2 linked regions of the Homo sapiens genome follow. The protein of the gene in region 1 interacts with the protein of each later gene in a pairwise test. Each region holds a gene or a part of one and is shown in the gene's direction. Other genes may lie near its edges.

Evidence for each region. The genes of interacting proteins can lie anywhere in the genome.
Region 2: the proteins of SLX4 (region 1) and SLX1B interact in binary tests that used the Homo sapiens proteins (3 or more experiments, as listed by UniProt).

Annotation. Positions count from the first base shown.
Region 1 is NC_000016.10:3,600,992-3,608,978, reverse strand, and holds part of SLX4 (structure-specific endonuclease subunit SLX4), read left to right. Parts: 5' UTR 1-14; coding exon 15-549; intron 550-2,280; coding exon 2,281-2,505; intron 2,506-6,671; coding exon 6,672-6,861; intron 6,862-7,787; coding exon 7,788-7,987. UniProt on the Homo sapiens protein: Regulatory subunit that interacts with and increases the activity of different structure-specific endonucleases.
Region 2 is NC_000016.10:29,450,058-29,457,644, forward strand, and holds the start of SLX1B (structure-specific endonuclease subunit SLX1), read left to right. Parts: upstream 1-4,475; 5' UTR 4,476-4,685; coding exon 4,686-4,873; exon of another isoform or gene 4,874-4,907; intron 4,908-5,033; exon of another isoform or gene 5,034-5,340; coding exon 5,341-5,392; intron 5,393-5,486; coding exon 5,487-5,828; intron 5,829-7,574; coding exon 7,575-7,587. Other genes in the region: BOLA2-SMG1P6 protein, read right to left, coding at 3,959-4,018, 4,134-4,394; BOLA2 (bolA-like protein 2), read right to left, coding at 3,625-3,675, 3,959-4,018, 4,134-4,394. UniProt on the Homo sapiens protein: Catalytic subunit of the SLX1-SLX4 structure-specific endonuclease that resolves DNA secondary structures generated during DNA repair and recombination.

The DNA of each region.
Region 1 (7,987 bases):
AGAGAAGAACCCTAATGAAACTGAGTGTGAATGAGGCTCAGCTAGGCTTCTACTTGGGTTCACTTTCTCATCTGTCTGCCTGTCCTGGGATTGACCCTCGCTCCTCTGAAGACCAGCCTGAAAGCCTTAAAACTGGTCAGATGATGGATGAGTCTGATGAGGACTTTAAAGAACTCTGCGCTAGCTTTTTCCAAAGGGTGAAAAAACATGGAATCAAGGAAGTGTCAGGAGAAAGGAAGACACAAAAGGCTGCCTCAAACGGCACTCAGATAAGAAGCAAATTGAAAAGGACCAAACAAACTGCTACCAAGACCAAAACCCTTCAAGGCCCTGCAGAGAAGAAACCTCCGTCTGGCAGCCAGGCCCCTAGGACTAAAAAGCAAAGGGTAACCAAATGGCAAGCAAGTGAACCGGCCCACTCTGTGAATGGGGAGGGGGGTGTGCTTGCCTCTGCTCCAGATCCACCTGTGCTCCGGGAAACAGCACAAAACACCCAGACGGGTAACCAGCAAGAACCATCGCCAAACCTTTCCAGAGAGAAAACCAGAGGTAATTTGTACTCTTTTAAACCAGGGGCTGGAAAACTTCCTGGAAAGGGCCAGATCGTAAATATTTTGGCTTTGTAGGCCACACAGACTCTGTCACAACTACTCAACTCTGCTGTCATAGTGAGAAAGCAGGCGTGGACAATATGTAAATGAACAGGCATGGCCATATGCCAGTAAAACTTTATTTACAAAAACAGGCAGCCAGCCACATGACCGTAGTTTGCTAACTTTTGGTTTGTTTTTATTTTTTAATTTTTAAGCTTAAAAAAAAATTTAGAGCTGGAGGTCTCACTATGTTGCCCAGGCTGGTCTTGAACTCCTGGACTCAAGCAATCCTCGTGCCTCAGCCTCTCAGAGTGCTGGGATTACAGGCGTAAGCCACTGCGCCCGGCTGACTCCTGGTTTAAACAACAGTCAAGAAAAACATAACCCGTGTGAATTTTTCACATGATTGTGTTTGGAGTCCTCTGCTCTTTCAGAATTTCCTATGAAATTCTGTTATATGATTGACATGAGTTACACAAACAACACAATAATGCTGCTTCTCTTGTTTTCTTGAATTTATTCCAAAGTGGGTAAGTTGGACTGGGCCAGCCAATTTGGATAGGCTGCTGAGAGGGCCGCATGAGGACTCTGTGTGGGCTCAAGTCCCAGGAGAATCTTCAGGTTCTTTCTTTCTCTCTCTGAAGACCTTTTAATCTTTTCCTTTGTTATTGTTATTGATTTATTTACTTACTTAGTTTTTAGAGACAGGATCTTGGTCTCTCACCCAGGCTGGAGTGCAGTGGTGCTATCATAGCTTACTGCAGCCTTGACCTCCCAGGTTCAAGCAGTCCTCCCTGCCTCAGCCTCCCGAGTAGCTGGGACCACAGGCACCCACCACCGTGCCTGGATAATTTTTTAACTGTTTAAAGCAGTTTTCTTGCCCTGCTGCCCTTGGTATACTGAGCTATATGCTTACTACACATTCTTCATGCAAAACTGAAAACTACCCTTGCATATATAATACACCATGGGCTCTCTGAGCTCCTGAGTTCTGTTTCTAAATTTCCTTTGCCCTCACTTCCTGATCTTAATAACCTCTCAGTAGAGTGGTGGTAGAGTCTCAGGTCGCATAGACTACTGGAAGGCATCAGCAGTGTTGCCTCACCAACTTTACTGGTCTCTCGTGCTCTTTGCCAGTCGGATGAAATCTATGCATGGTTCCCCCAAAACACGTATCCATGCGCGTATCTGCAAAACTGGCACACAACTTCATGGGGTTCATGGATCCCCACTGAAGATCATCCGTGGATCCCAAGTTAAAGAAGAACTGATCTAGGACATAAACCTTTGTCATTAATATTTCTTTAATAATAGCTTTATTGGGGTATAATTGATATTCCATAAAATTCACCATTTAAAAGGGTATGGTTCAGTGGTTTTTAGTATATTCACAGACTTGTCCAACCACCACCACTACCTAACGTTAGAACAGTTTTATCATCCTAAAAATAAACCCCATGCTCATTAGCAGTCACATCCCATTCCCCTCCTGTTATTGATATTTATGTCTATATTGCCATAAACAAAGAGGTTACCAACAAGCAACCAGTCCTCTTCACATTTGTGAGTCAAACCTAAACTAGTTGATAAAGGACTCTTGAAACTTGCGTCTAACCTGTATCTGGTAGAAAAGTCTTTTATTTCTCCAGCTACAACAGATGGTTGTGAATATTTTCCTCCTTGCCAGAGAATGTGCCCAACAGCGACTCCCAGCCTCCTCCTTCCTGTTTGACAACAGCAGTGCCAAGTCCCTCCAAACCCCGCACAGCACAATTGGTCCTACAGCGAATGCAGCAGTTCAAGAGAGCAGACCCCGAGCGTTTGAGACACGCTTCAGAAGAGTGCTCCCTCGAGGCTGCGCGGGAAGAAAATGTCCCAAAGGATCCTCAAGAGGAGATGATGGCGGGGAATGGTATGATGAGTGTGTTTCTGTCTTCCACACAGAGATAAGTTAATACAACTCTGAGGAAGGGAGGCGGGAAGGAATCAGCATTTGTTGAGTTTCTTCTGTGGATAGGCTCTCTGCTTGATGTTTTACCTTTGCCACTTCACTGGATCCAGCCAGAGAATGAAGAGTCTCTGGGATCATTTCCCACCTAGCTTCCTTGATAAGGTACCGTTTTGTTTTTTTTTCTGAGACAGAGCCTTGCTCTGTCACCCAGGCTGGAGTGCAGTGACATGATCTCAGCTCACTGCAACCTCCGCCTCCCAGGTTCAAGCAATTATCTTGCCCCAGCCAGTGGGATTACAGACGTGTGCCACCACACCTGGCCAATTTTTGTATTTTTAGTAGAGACAGGGTTTCGCCAAGTTGGCCAGGCTGGTCTCGAACTCCTGACCTCAAGTGATCTGCCTACCTCAGCTCCCCAAAGTGCTGGGATTACAGGCGTGAACCATTGCACCTGGCCCTCTTCCTTTTTTTTTTTTTTTTTTTTTTTTGAGATGGAGTCTCGCTCCGTCACCCAGGCTGGAGTGCAGTGGCACGATATTAGCTCACTGCAAGCTCCACCTCCCAGGTTCACGCCATTCTCCTGCCTCAGCCTCCCGAGTAGCTGGGACTACAGGCTCCCACCACCACGCCTGGCTAATTTTTTGTATTTTTAGTAGAGACAAGGTTTCACCTTGTTAGCCAGGATGGTCTCGATCTCCTGACCTCGTGATCCACCCGCCTTGGCCTCCCAAAGTGCTGGGATTACAGGCGTGAGCCACTGTGCCTGGCCTCCTTTTTTTAAAAATTATGACTTTTTATTATGAAAGCTTTCCCTTTCAGTTTTTTCCTTTTAAAAAGATAACCCTCAGTATTCACAAAGAACTCTTCCTTTCAGAAAAGGTTTTTTTGTTGTTGTTGTTTTAATTACAATGAAGCCAGGCATGATGGCTCATGCCTATAATCCCAAAACTTTGGGAGGCCAAGGCAGGAGGACTACTTGAGGTCACAAGTTCGAGACCAGCCTGGACAACATAGTGAGACCCCCATCTCTACAAAAAAATTTTAGGGGCCAGGCGTGGTGGCTCACGCCTGTAATGCCAGCACTTTGGGAGGCCGAGGTGCGCAGATCACAAGGTCAGGAGATTGAGACCATCCTGGCTAACACAGTGAAACCCCATCTCTATGAAAAATACAAAAAATTAGCAAGGTATGGTGGTGGGTGCCTGTAGTCCCAGCTACTCGGGAGGCTGAGGCAGGAGAATGGCGTGAACCTGGGAGACAGAGCTTGCAGTGAGCCGAGATTGCACCACTGCACTCCAGCCTGGGCAACAGAGCAAGACTCTGACTCAAAAAAAAATTTTTTTTTAATTAGCTGGGCATGATGGTGCACAACTGTAGTCCCAGCTACTCGGGAGGCTGAGGTGGGAGGATTGCTTGAGCCCAGGACGTTGAGCTGCAGTGAGCTGTGATTGCATCATTGCACTCCAGGGCAACAGAGTGAGACCCTGTCTCAAAAAAAAAAAAAAAAAAATTACAATGAATCCCCTAATCCCCTATACCTCAATCTAGATTTAACAAATGTTAACATTTGGCCATTTGTTTATGTCTTTATAAATATACATTTTTTTTTTTTTTTGAGATGGAGTCTTGGTCTGTCTCCCAGGTTGGGGTGCAGTGGCGCAATCTCGGCTCACTGCAAACTCCACCTCCTGGGTTCAAGCCATTCTCCTGCCTCAGCTTCCAGGAAGCTGGGACTACAGGCATGCACCACCACGTCCAGCTAATTTTTGTATTTTTAGTAGAGTTGGGGTTTCACCATGCCGGCCAGGCTGTTCTGGAACTCCTGACCTTGTGATCTGTCCACCTCAGTCTCCCAAAGTGCTGGGATTACAGACGTGAGCCACCGTGCCTAGCCAAGCGTACATATTTTTCTTCCATATTATCTGAAGGTAAATTATAGACATTAGGATCCTTTACCCCTAGATTCTGCTGCATAACCACAATACCATTAGCACGCTTAATTCCATAATAGTGCCTGGCGTCCAGTTCAAACTCAAATTTCCCTGGTTGTCTCAAGGTTATTTTTTGTAGCTGGTTTCTTTTTTTTCTGAACAAGGATTCAGTAAGTTCACACACTGCATATTGCTGTAGCTCAGCAGTATCCTAAGGTCTAGATTCTAGAATAGTCCCCCATTTCCTTTTGTTTTCCATGACACTGACTTTTTTTTTTTTTTTTTTTGACAGAGGCTTGGCTAGAGTGCAGTGGCACAATCTCGGTTCACTGCAACCTCTGCCTCCCAGGTTCAAGCTATTCTCGTGCCTCGGCCTCCTGAGTAGCTGGGATTACAAGCACCCACCACCACACCCGGCTAATTTTTTTGTATTTTTACTAGAAATGGGGTTTCACCATGTTGCCCAGGCTGGTCTTGAACTCCTGAGCTCAGGGGATCTGCCCTCCTCAGCCTCCCAAAGTGCTAGGATTACAGGTGTGAACCACCACACCCAGCCCTATGACACTGAGTTTTTGAAGAGGCTAGGCTAATTGTATTATAAGATTTCCCACTTTCTGGATTTATTTCTTTATGGGATCGTTAACTCCTTCCTCTAACCATTGGGTTGCCCCACTCTGAGTAGATTAGAGGCTCATTGGCTGCAGGTGAGACAGGGTGGCGACAGTGCCCCATAGCTGCTGTGTACTTGGTGTGGCACCGGCCCAATAAGCGTAATAATGCCAGGTGCTCCTGTTCTCCATCCCCAAAACAATATGGATTCTCATCTCTGATGAAAATATACAAAAGGAAAAGAAATAGGAAGAAACCATTATCGGCAGACCTACAGCTAATAAGTATGCAGGATCTTGGCATTGCATTGCAGATTTCACTGCAGTAGCACGGAGGAGTCTCAGGCCACCCCAGGGTCCACAGCAGGCAGTGATTTGATGTCCTGCCGAGGCATCAGTCCTGGACGCACATGTGAGTTGCAGAGGAGGCACCCAGCTGGTGTGAGCTCCGCCCCTGCCCAGCATTTGACTCAGTTCTCTCTGTATCTTCACATCACACCCAGCAAGTGCTCAGAAAGAGATAAACCATTTGTTTGTTAAGAAACCAAACCAGGCTGGACGCGGTGGCTCACGCCTGTAATCCCAGCACTTTGGGGAGGCCAAGGCGGGCAGATCACCTGAGGTCAGGAATTCAGGACCACCCTGGCCAACATGGTGAAGCCCTGTCTCTACTAAAAATTAGCCAGGTGTGGTGGGCACCTGTAATCCCAGCTACTCAGGAGGCTGAGGCAGGAGAATCGCTTGGACCCGGGAGGCAGAGGTTGCAGTGAGCTGAGATCGCGTCGTTGCACTCCAGCCTGGCGACAGAGTGTGAGACTCCATCTCAAAAACAAACAAACAAACAAAACAGGGCACCAAAATGAAGGTGTGCTGTTTTGCTGGCCTCAGTGGCAGGCACTGGTAGGCCACAGCCATGAAGAACTTGGGGATTTATGAGGCGTTCAGGGCATATCCCTTGTGAGTGACAGGGGTCTGCTCCAGCAATATCAGATGGGCCACCCTGGGAGCCATCTCAAGACCAGAATCAGTCCATTCTTGAGTCTGATGCTAAGTAAGAGATGCTGCCTTTTAAACGCCAAAGGCATTTCACTCTGCCCTGGTTTTATCATGGGCAGTAAAAGGTCAGCAGGAAAGGGTGAGTTTTGAAGAGAACATCTAGCTTTGTTGGAATATGAGCCTTGTGAACTTGCAATGCCCGAGGTAGCCAACTTCAGCAGAAGTGGGAAAGTTTAGGTCCTTGCTACTCAGAGTGGTCCTGTGCTGCCAGCATCGCCAAGCCTGGAGGCTGCTAGAAATGCGGAGAGTCTCAGGCTGCACCTGGACCCCTTGAATTTGAATCTGAGTGTCGACAAGCTTCCCAGGTAATGCATATCCATGTTAAAGTTGGAGACGGCTGTTCCCGGAGTGCTGATTAGTGCCCAGTCTCACTGGACAGTGTCCAAGTCACCAGCCTGCAGAGTGGAGCTGGGTTCTGGTTTCTTTGCGTTCCACCTGCTCCCCATGGTCTGCAGGAGCTGACAGAGCAGAGGTCTGAGGGTGAGCTTGTCTTTGGAGTTTATTCTCACGGATCTTTGGTGCTTCTCCACAGTGTATGGGCTTGGGCCCCCTGCCCCAGAGAGCGACGCTGCGGTGGCCTTGACCCTGCAGCAGGAGTTTGCACGGGTAGGAGCATCGGCACATGATGATAGCCTGGAGGAAAAGGGTTTGTTCTTCTGCCAGATTTGTCAAAAGAACCTCTCAGCCATGAACGTGACCCGAAGGGAACAGCATGTGAACAGGTGGGGGCAGCTTGGGCCGTCGCCTCTCCCGTGTATGTGACCAGAATCCCCAAGCACCCCAGGGCTGGAGTGCGGATCTCCACACCTTACCATGACAACAGCACCTCAGCTTTGTTGTCAACCTACCCCTTTTTAAAAATAACTTCGTTGAGATACAATTCACAGAACATATAGTTCACCCATTTAAACTGAACAAATCACTACTTTTGGGATATTCACACAGTTGGGCAACTGTCACCACAATCACTTCTGGATTATTTTCATCACCCCCAAAAGAATCCCCACACCCATTGGCAGCCACTCCCTATTGCCCCTCTCTCCCCTGACAACCACTAATCAACATTCTGTCTGGATGGATTTGCCGATTCTGAAATTGCACAGTTGTCCTTTTGTGTCTGCCTTCTTTGACTTAATATGTTGTTTTTGAGGTTCATCCATGTTGTAGCATGGAGCAGGCTTCATTCCTTTTTATGGCTGAGCAGTATCTCATTGTATGGCTAGACTGTGTTTTTCCCATTCTTAGATGAGGAATATGACCATGGTTTATCCTTTCGTCCATTGGCGGACATTTGGAGCATTTCTACCCTTTGGGATTGTGGATAGAGCTGCCGTGAACATGGGTTTCATGTATTTGTTTGGGTACCTGCTTTCAGTTCTTTGGGGTCTCTACTTAGGAGTGGAATTTCTAAGTCATCATGTAACTGCATTTAATCTTTCCTTGCTTTCTTTAGCCAACTTTGCTGACAGATACCTAAGTGTAGTGTCTAGGGGCTGACTGCCGGGAGACGGAGCCAGGCTGTGTAGAGGGGATTGGCTTTGGGGAACTTGCTTTGACCACAGCACGTCTGTGTTGACCTGGACCCACATTTGCTCCAATCCACATTCCTGGGGAGGGTGGTTCTCCTGTATTGACTGTTTTCCTTCAGGTGCTTGGATGAAGCTGAAAAGACACTAAGACCTTCTGTGCCTCAGATCCCTGAGTGCCCGATTTGTGGGAAACCGTTTCTTACCTTAAAGAGCAGAACCAGTCACTTGAAGCAGTGTGCTGTGAAGATGGAGGTTGGCCCCCAGCTCCTGCTTCAGGCTGTGCGGCTGCAGACAGCACAGCCTGAGGGTAGCAGCAGCC
Region 2 (7,587 bases), about 26 Mb from region 1:
ACGTGACTCTGCTGGCACTGTTGCTTGTGAGGAAATGAACCAACCATCACTTACAGGGTAGGCATCTTTTAAACTGCAGGTCCAAAGATAAAAATAACGAGGGAGGCTGGGCATGGGGACTCACGTCTATAATCCCAGCACTGTGGGAGGCTGAGGCGGCAGGATCATTTGAGCCCAGGAGTTTGAGACCTGCCTGAGCAACACGGCGAGATACCGTCTCTACGAAAAATAAAATAAAAAATTAGCCAGGCATGGTGGTGGGCACCTATAGTTCCAGCTACTCAGGAGGCTGAGGCAGGAGGATCCCTTGAGCCCAGGAGGTCGAGGCTGCAATGAGCCATTGCACCACTGCACTGCAGCCTGGGTGACAGAGCAAGACACTGTCTCTAAAAAATATAAATAGGCCGGGTGTGGCAGCTCACGCCTGTAATCCCAGCACTTTAGGAGGCCGAGGTGGGTGAATCACCTGAGGTCAGAAGTTCGAGACCAGCCTGGCCAACATGGTGAAACCCCATCTCTACTAAAAATACAAAAATTAGCTGGGCATGGTGGCAGGCGCCTGTAATCTCAGCTACTCAGGAGGCTGAGGCAAGAGAATTGCTTGAATCCGGGAGGCAAAGGTTGCAGTGAGCCGAGATCATGCCATTGTACTCCAGCCTGGGGGACAGGAGTGAGACTTCGTCTCAAAAAAAAAAAAAAAAAAAATATATATATATATATATTTTTTTTTTTTTAAATGTATAAATACATCATATATATTTTAATATATAAATATATTATATATATTATATATTTTAATATATAAATATATTATATATAATATATTTTAATATATAAATATTATATATATTATATTTTAATATATAAATATTATATATATTAATTATATATTTTAATATATAATATATATTATATTATATAATAATAAATTATATATTATATTATATAGTAATAAGTTATATATTATACTATATAATAATATAGTATAATATATAATATATATTATAATATATTATATTATATTATATTATATATTATAATATAAATTATATATATTTTATATATATGTTTTATATATTATATATTTTAATATATGAAACAGGGGAACTTCTTCTAAGGAAAAGACAGAATTAAGGCAACAGGCTGATCCTAGTTTACCAGAGAAGAAACTGAGGCCGGGAGCAGGAGCCCAGCTCACTGAAGGGCAGATCCCAAGTCAGAGTCCAAGTCTCCCCACTTTTTTATTTATTTAATTTTTTCTGAGATGGAGTTTCATTCTTGTTGCCCAAATTGAGTACAATGGCACAATCTCGGCTCACCGCAACCTCTGCCTTCTGGGTTCAAGCCATTCTCGTGCCTCAGACTCCCAAGTAGCTGGGATTACAGGCATGTGCCACCACGTCCGGCTAACTTTTGTGTTTTCAGTAGAGGTGGGGTCTCACCATGTTGGCCAGACTGGTCTCAAACTCCTGGCCTCAAGTCATCTGCCTGCCTCAGCCTCCCAAAGTGCTGGGATTACAGGCATGAGCCGCTGTGCCTGGCCTTATGTCTCCCCTTTTGAATTCAGAGCCTTCCCCCGTGTAGTGAGTGCTTCTGCCTCTCTAGCCCTTCCTGTGGGTTCTGCCTGGGCCTGACCTCTGTGAGAGACCTGGCAGGAACAGGTCTGTCAGGCCTTGTGGGGAGTGGGTGTGGGAATAGGTTTTGATACCCAACTTAGCAGGTGATCCTGAGATGGGAGGACACAGGGCTGTTTGGGATGGGCGTCTTAGCCATAGTAAGGTTTGGTTCATATCAAGCAGGGACCACCCATGGCGTCATTTCCAGGCCCCACCTCTTCAGTATGCCATAGAAAACTACTTGGGCAGTAGAGGTGTGGGAAGAAAACAAAAAAGAAAGCTGGGCATAAGTGGCACACGCCTGTAATCCCAGCACTTTTGGAGGCCGAGGCGGGTGGATCACCTGAGGTCGGGAGTTCAAGACCAGCCTGAACAACATGGAGAAACCCTGTCTCTATTAAAAATACAAGATTAGCCGGGCGTGGTAGCACATACCTGTAATCCCAGCTACTTGGGAGGCTGAGACAAGAGAATCGCTTGAACCCAGGAGGCGGAGGTTGTGGTGAGCCGAGATCGTGCCATTGCACTCCAGCCTGGGCAACAAGAGTGAAACTCTGTCTCAAAAACAGACAAACAAACAAACAATAAAAAAACCCCAAAAATTAGCTGGGCATGGTGGCGTGTGCCTGTAATCCCAGCTACTAGGGAGGCTGAGGCAGGAGAATCGCTTGAACCCGGGAGGGGGAAGTTGTAGTGAGCCAAGATCATGCTACTGCACTCCAGCCTGGGCAACAGAGCCAAGACTCTGTCTCAAAACAAACAAACAAACAAACAAAAAAACGCAGGAAAAGAGTGTGTGATGGCTGAAACTTGCAATTTCTCACTCTCAACGAGCCCTGGCCCCAACTAGGTTATTTGGGCTCCCTCCCTAGGTCTCAGGGACCTCTGTTCAAAGTCCTAGCAATCTGGGCCAGGTACAATGGCTCACGCCTAAAATTCCAGCACTTTAGGAGACCAAGGCGGGCAGATCACTTGAGGCCAGGAGTTTGAGACTGGCCTGGCCAACATGGTGAAACCCTGTCTCTACTAAAAGTACAAAAATTAGCCGGGCATGGTGGTGCACCCCTGTAATCCCAGCTACTCAGGAGGCTGAAGCACAAGAATCTTTTGAACCTGGGAGGCAGAGGTTGCAATGAGCTGAGATGGCGCCACGGCACTCCAGCCTGGGCGACAGAGCAAGACCCTGTCTCAAACAACAAAAAACAAATAAAACAAACAAGGTCCTAGCAACCCTACTAACCTGTTATGAAGACTGATACAGGGGCATCACCTGCCCCAATTTTCTGACTCAGGTCAGCCTTATATTCCTACTCTAATCTCACCCCTATCCCCGTCCCACACCCACTATTCTTAAAACCTCCATGGTCCTCCGGGGGCAGCTGTAGACACATTAAGCCCAGGGCTATGGGGCCACTGGAACCTTCTCCAGTGGGTCTGAAAACATCAGCATTCCAGGAGTTGATGAGCCCCTACCTGGGCACCACTCCCTCTTGGGCCTGAGAAGGCCGGGGGGAACCTGCAAGGAATATGTGGAATTCTATATGGTGCCTCTGATACTGCGGTAATGTCAGGGAGAGGTTTGTTCAACTGGTCAGGGCCCTGAAACCCCGATCACTTTCTCATCTCTGCATCTTGAAGGCTAGCAGAGAGGAGGAACCCTGAGCTCTCTAGGAGGTGGGTAGGTGGTGGCAGTACAGACTCCTAGATGTCTAAACGGAGTTGCAGAGAGAAGGCTTTCTCGGTAGACCCTGGAAGGGACTTTTACGGTAGAACTTTCATTTTACAAGCAGGGATAGAGGCCTAGATGGGGACAGAGACGTGTCCAAGGTAAAACAATGGACGGAGGCAGGGCAGGGAGAGGCCAGGTCCTAGACTCGGCCTCAGCACCCCTCCCACACACACATCGACACAGAAGCTGGTCCAGATTTATAATTTAATGGCTGTGCAGATCCCAGTCCCTCATTTCTGTCGCTCACGTGCCCACTGGTCTGGGGTCAGGGTTTTCTGTTCAAAGGCATGGATGTGCGGGAGCTCTTCTGCTAGGCACGCGTTCACCAGCCTGGGGCGAGAGATGGGGTTAGGAAAAGGCCAGCGGTGATCGCACACCCCGAGGCTAGGGTGACCCAAGAGACTGGTGTCCCCAAGGTTGTAGTCCCCAGGCCGTGGGAACACGTACTTGGAGAGAGGGTCTACATCGAAATACTCGAAGCAGGGGTCACGAAGGCGGGATCCTCAAGGTCCCTGAGCCACGCCAGGGGGAGTGCGGGAGTCAGGTTGCAGGGGTAGGGGGAGTGGCTGGGGTTGTGGTACAGGAGCTAGGCAAGGTGCTCCCAGGGCCTTACCTGTGTCTCTGAAGCAGCGGTTTCCCCTCGAACTTGGCCGACACCACCAGGACTCGGAAGCTACAGGAGCAACGGTTGAGGGTCGTGTCCTCCACCTCCTACCGAGCGGAAGAATATGAATGGTGCCGAACCCGCCCCCCGAGCTCTTTTCCCCTTGTCCGGCGGCTCAACTCACCACATGCTCCGCCTCCAGGTCCCGCTGCAGCTTCTCGCGGAGGTATTCGGCGCTGAGTTCCATGGCGGCAGTCCAGCTGGAACGGCAGCCCAGCAGGGACACAACCCCAGCTCGGGCGCCGGCCACGCTACCTTGCTGCCTTACAGGAGCCACTTCCGCTGGAAAACTCACTTCCGCCCTTACTAAGGCGTACGTCAACGCAGTACTTCCGCCCTCAAGCAGCCGGGCTTTCCAGCGGTCCAGGCTTTTCGCGCTTGCCATGTGTCAGCCAATCAGAGCCTGAGGAAGGTGGGACTCGGGCGGAGCCGATGCTGAATGGTACGCGCTCGCCGACTGGACAGCAGTCTGGCTTCCGCGGTCGGACTTCTACACCCGCCTCCAGACAGGAGAGGGGCACGTACCGGCGCTACGGCTTCCTGCAGGCTGCCTCCGGATAGTCCCCGAGAGCTTGTTCCGAAGCAAGCACCCTGCAGCCCTAGCGATCCAGCCCTCCCCTGGACCCTAGGTCACGGCAATCAACCCCCTGCTGTGGTTCCCGAACCCCAAGGCCCGATGGGTCCCGCGGGGGTCGCGGCGAGGCCAGGGCGCTTTTTCGGCGTCTACCTGCTCTACTGCCTGAACCCCCGGTACCGGGGCCGCGTCTACGTGGGGTTCACTGTCAACACTGCTCGTCGGGTCCAGCAGCACAATGGGGGCCGCAAAAAAGGCGGGGCCTGGCGGACCAGCGGGCGAGGGCCCTGGTGAGAGGGGGAGGCCTTCTGTGCCGGGAGGAAGGCGTCCCAGAGGAGGCGGACCCCGCGGGGCACAGGCCTGTTGAGAAGGACCGGCCAGGACTGTGACAGAGGCGGGGCGTCTGTGGTGGGGACGGGGCCTGTCGCAGGGGAGGAGCGTGACGGGGAGGCGGTGCCCGGGGCATCTCCGCGGCGGAACTCAGGGAAGGAGCTAGCTGGGGCGGGGGTGATGATCCAGGCTGGGTTCCAGCATAGGGCTCTTGGTGGGCACGCTGGGGTCGGGTGGAATGCAGGAGAGAGAGGAGGTGGGACAGGTGGGTACCTGGGCTGGAGGCAGGGCCTGAGGTGGGCAGGTGCAGAGGGCTGCACTTCTCGGCTGAAGCCGGGAATGAGGACCCCGCTCTCGGGTGGGATTGGAGGGGACCCGCGGCTGAGGCGCTGGGCTGCGACAGGGACATCACGGTTCTCCTCCTCAGGGAGATGGTGCTCGTCGTGCACGGCTTCCCGTCCTCCGTGGCCGCCCTTCGGGTAAGGAAGGAGACCGGGCAGCGGCGGCCGGGTGAGGGCTTGGGTTCCGCCCCTCGCTCCGAGCCGCCCTGATGCCCCTGTACGCCGCCCGCAGTTTGAGTGGGCTTGGCAGCACCCGCACGCCTCGCGCCGCCTGGCGCACGTGGGGCCTCGCCTGCGAGGAGAGACAGCCTTCGCTTTCCACCTGCGCGTGCTGGCGCACATGCTGCGCGCACCGCCCTGGGCTCGCCTCCCGCTCACGCTGCGCTGGGTGCGCCCAGACCTCCGCCAGGACCTCTGCCTCCCGCCGCCGCCGCACGTGCCTCTGGCCTTCGGGCCTCCACCGCCCCAGGCCCCGGCCCCAAGGCGCCGCGCAGGTCCCTTTGATGACGCGGAGCCTGAGCCAGACCAGGGGGATCCAGGGGCCTGCTGCTCCCTGTGCGCCCAGACCATCCAGGTGAGGTCCCCCCGAGGAATGGATGGCTCTAGAGTCCAGACGACTTCGGATCCAGCTCTTTCTTGAGGGAAACCCACTGACACGCTTTGGCCACCCTATCCCCATCTCTAAGATGCTGATGCTATAGGACTTACGGCCATTCCTGAGCAAAGCAGGCCCTGCTCAGGGCCTTCACCATTTCCCCTTCAAAGAAAAGGTTCTTCCCTAGGCCATCAGTACTCCGCTGCACTCCAGTGTGGTCGACAGAGCATGACCCTCTTTTTTTTTTTTTTTTTTTTGAGATGGAGTCTAGCTCTGTCGCCCAGGCTAGAGTGCAGTGGCGCGATCTCTGCTCACTGCAAGCTCCGCCTCCTGGGTTCACGCCATTCTCCTGCCTCAGCCTCCCGAGTAGCTGGGACTACAGGCGCCCGCCACCACGCCTGGTTAATTTTTTGTATTTTTAGTAGAGACGGGGTTTCACCGTGTTAGCCAGGATGGTCTCGATGTCCTAGCCTCGTGATCCGCCCGCCTCAGCCTCCCAAAGTGCTGGGATTACAGGCATGAGCCACCGCGCCCGGCCCTTTTTTTTTTTTTAGACAGAGTCTTGCTCTGTTGCGGAGGCTGGAGTGCAGTGATCTCAGCTCACTGGAAGCTCCGCCTCCTGGGTTCAAGCGATTCTCCTATCTCAACCTCCCAAGTGTGCCACCACACCTGCCGAATGTTTGTGTTTTTAGTAGGGATGGGGTTCGCCATGTTGGGCAGGCTGGTCTCAAACTCCTGACCTCAAGTGATCTGCCCGCCTCGGCCTCCCAGAGTGCTGGGATTATAGGCGTGAGCCACCATGCCTGGACATGACCCTGTCTCTAAAACAATGTAATGAACTGCAGCTCATTCTTGTGTGCACTTTTCTGCACCCCCTTTCCCTTAACACTTACTATTGTCTGGCATGCTACGTGTTTTCTTGATCTCATTAGCCTCTCCCACCCCAACTGCCACACTGCACTATCAGAGGGCAGCACTTATCACTGCTGTAGAACAAAGTCCTGCACTGAGCCGATGGCCCAGAAATTTTCTTTTTATTTATTTATTTATTTTTTTTTTGAGACAGAGTCTTACTCTGTCGCTCAGGCTGGAGTGTAGTGGCGCGATCTCAGCTCACTGCAACCTCTGCCTCCTGGTTTCAAGCAATTCTCCTTCCTCAGCCTCCAGAGTAGCTGGGATTACACGCGCCTGCCACCGCGCCTGGCTAATTTTTGTATTTTTAGTAGAGATGGGGTTTCAACCATGTTGGCCAGGCTGGTCTCAAACTCCTGACCTCAGGTGATCCTGCCCACCTAAGCCTCCCAAAATGCTGGTATTACAGGCATGAGCCACCGTGCCCGGCCTAAATATTTAATAAAATAATGGACGATGGGTGCCTTCTACTGAGCTCCCGGTAATTGTGAGTGAGTAGAGGACTTGCCCTGGGGACATTCAGTGACCTGCTGGGTGTTGCTGAGCTGTGAGGAAGTTCAGGTCTGGCTGCAGTGGTGAGGCTGTGACTCAATCAATCACTGCTGATGCTCCCAGGACCTGCACCAGCTTAGTCCTAGGGGCAAGGATTTTAACTGTCCACCTCAGTTTCTTCATTTGTAAGATGCAAATAACAGTCACCCCTGCCTCATGGGATGGAGCTGTGTAATGCCCGCAACAGTGCCTGCTGCATAGAGGGGTTGCTGCCAGCTGCCTCTCCCTCCTTGTCTCTTACCTGCCTGCTGCCTGGGTCAGGATGAAGAGGGGC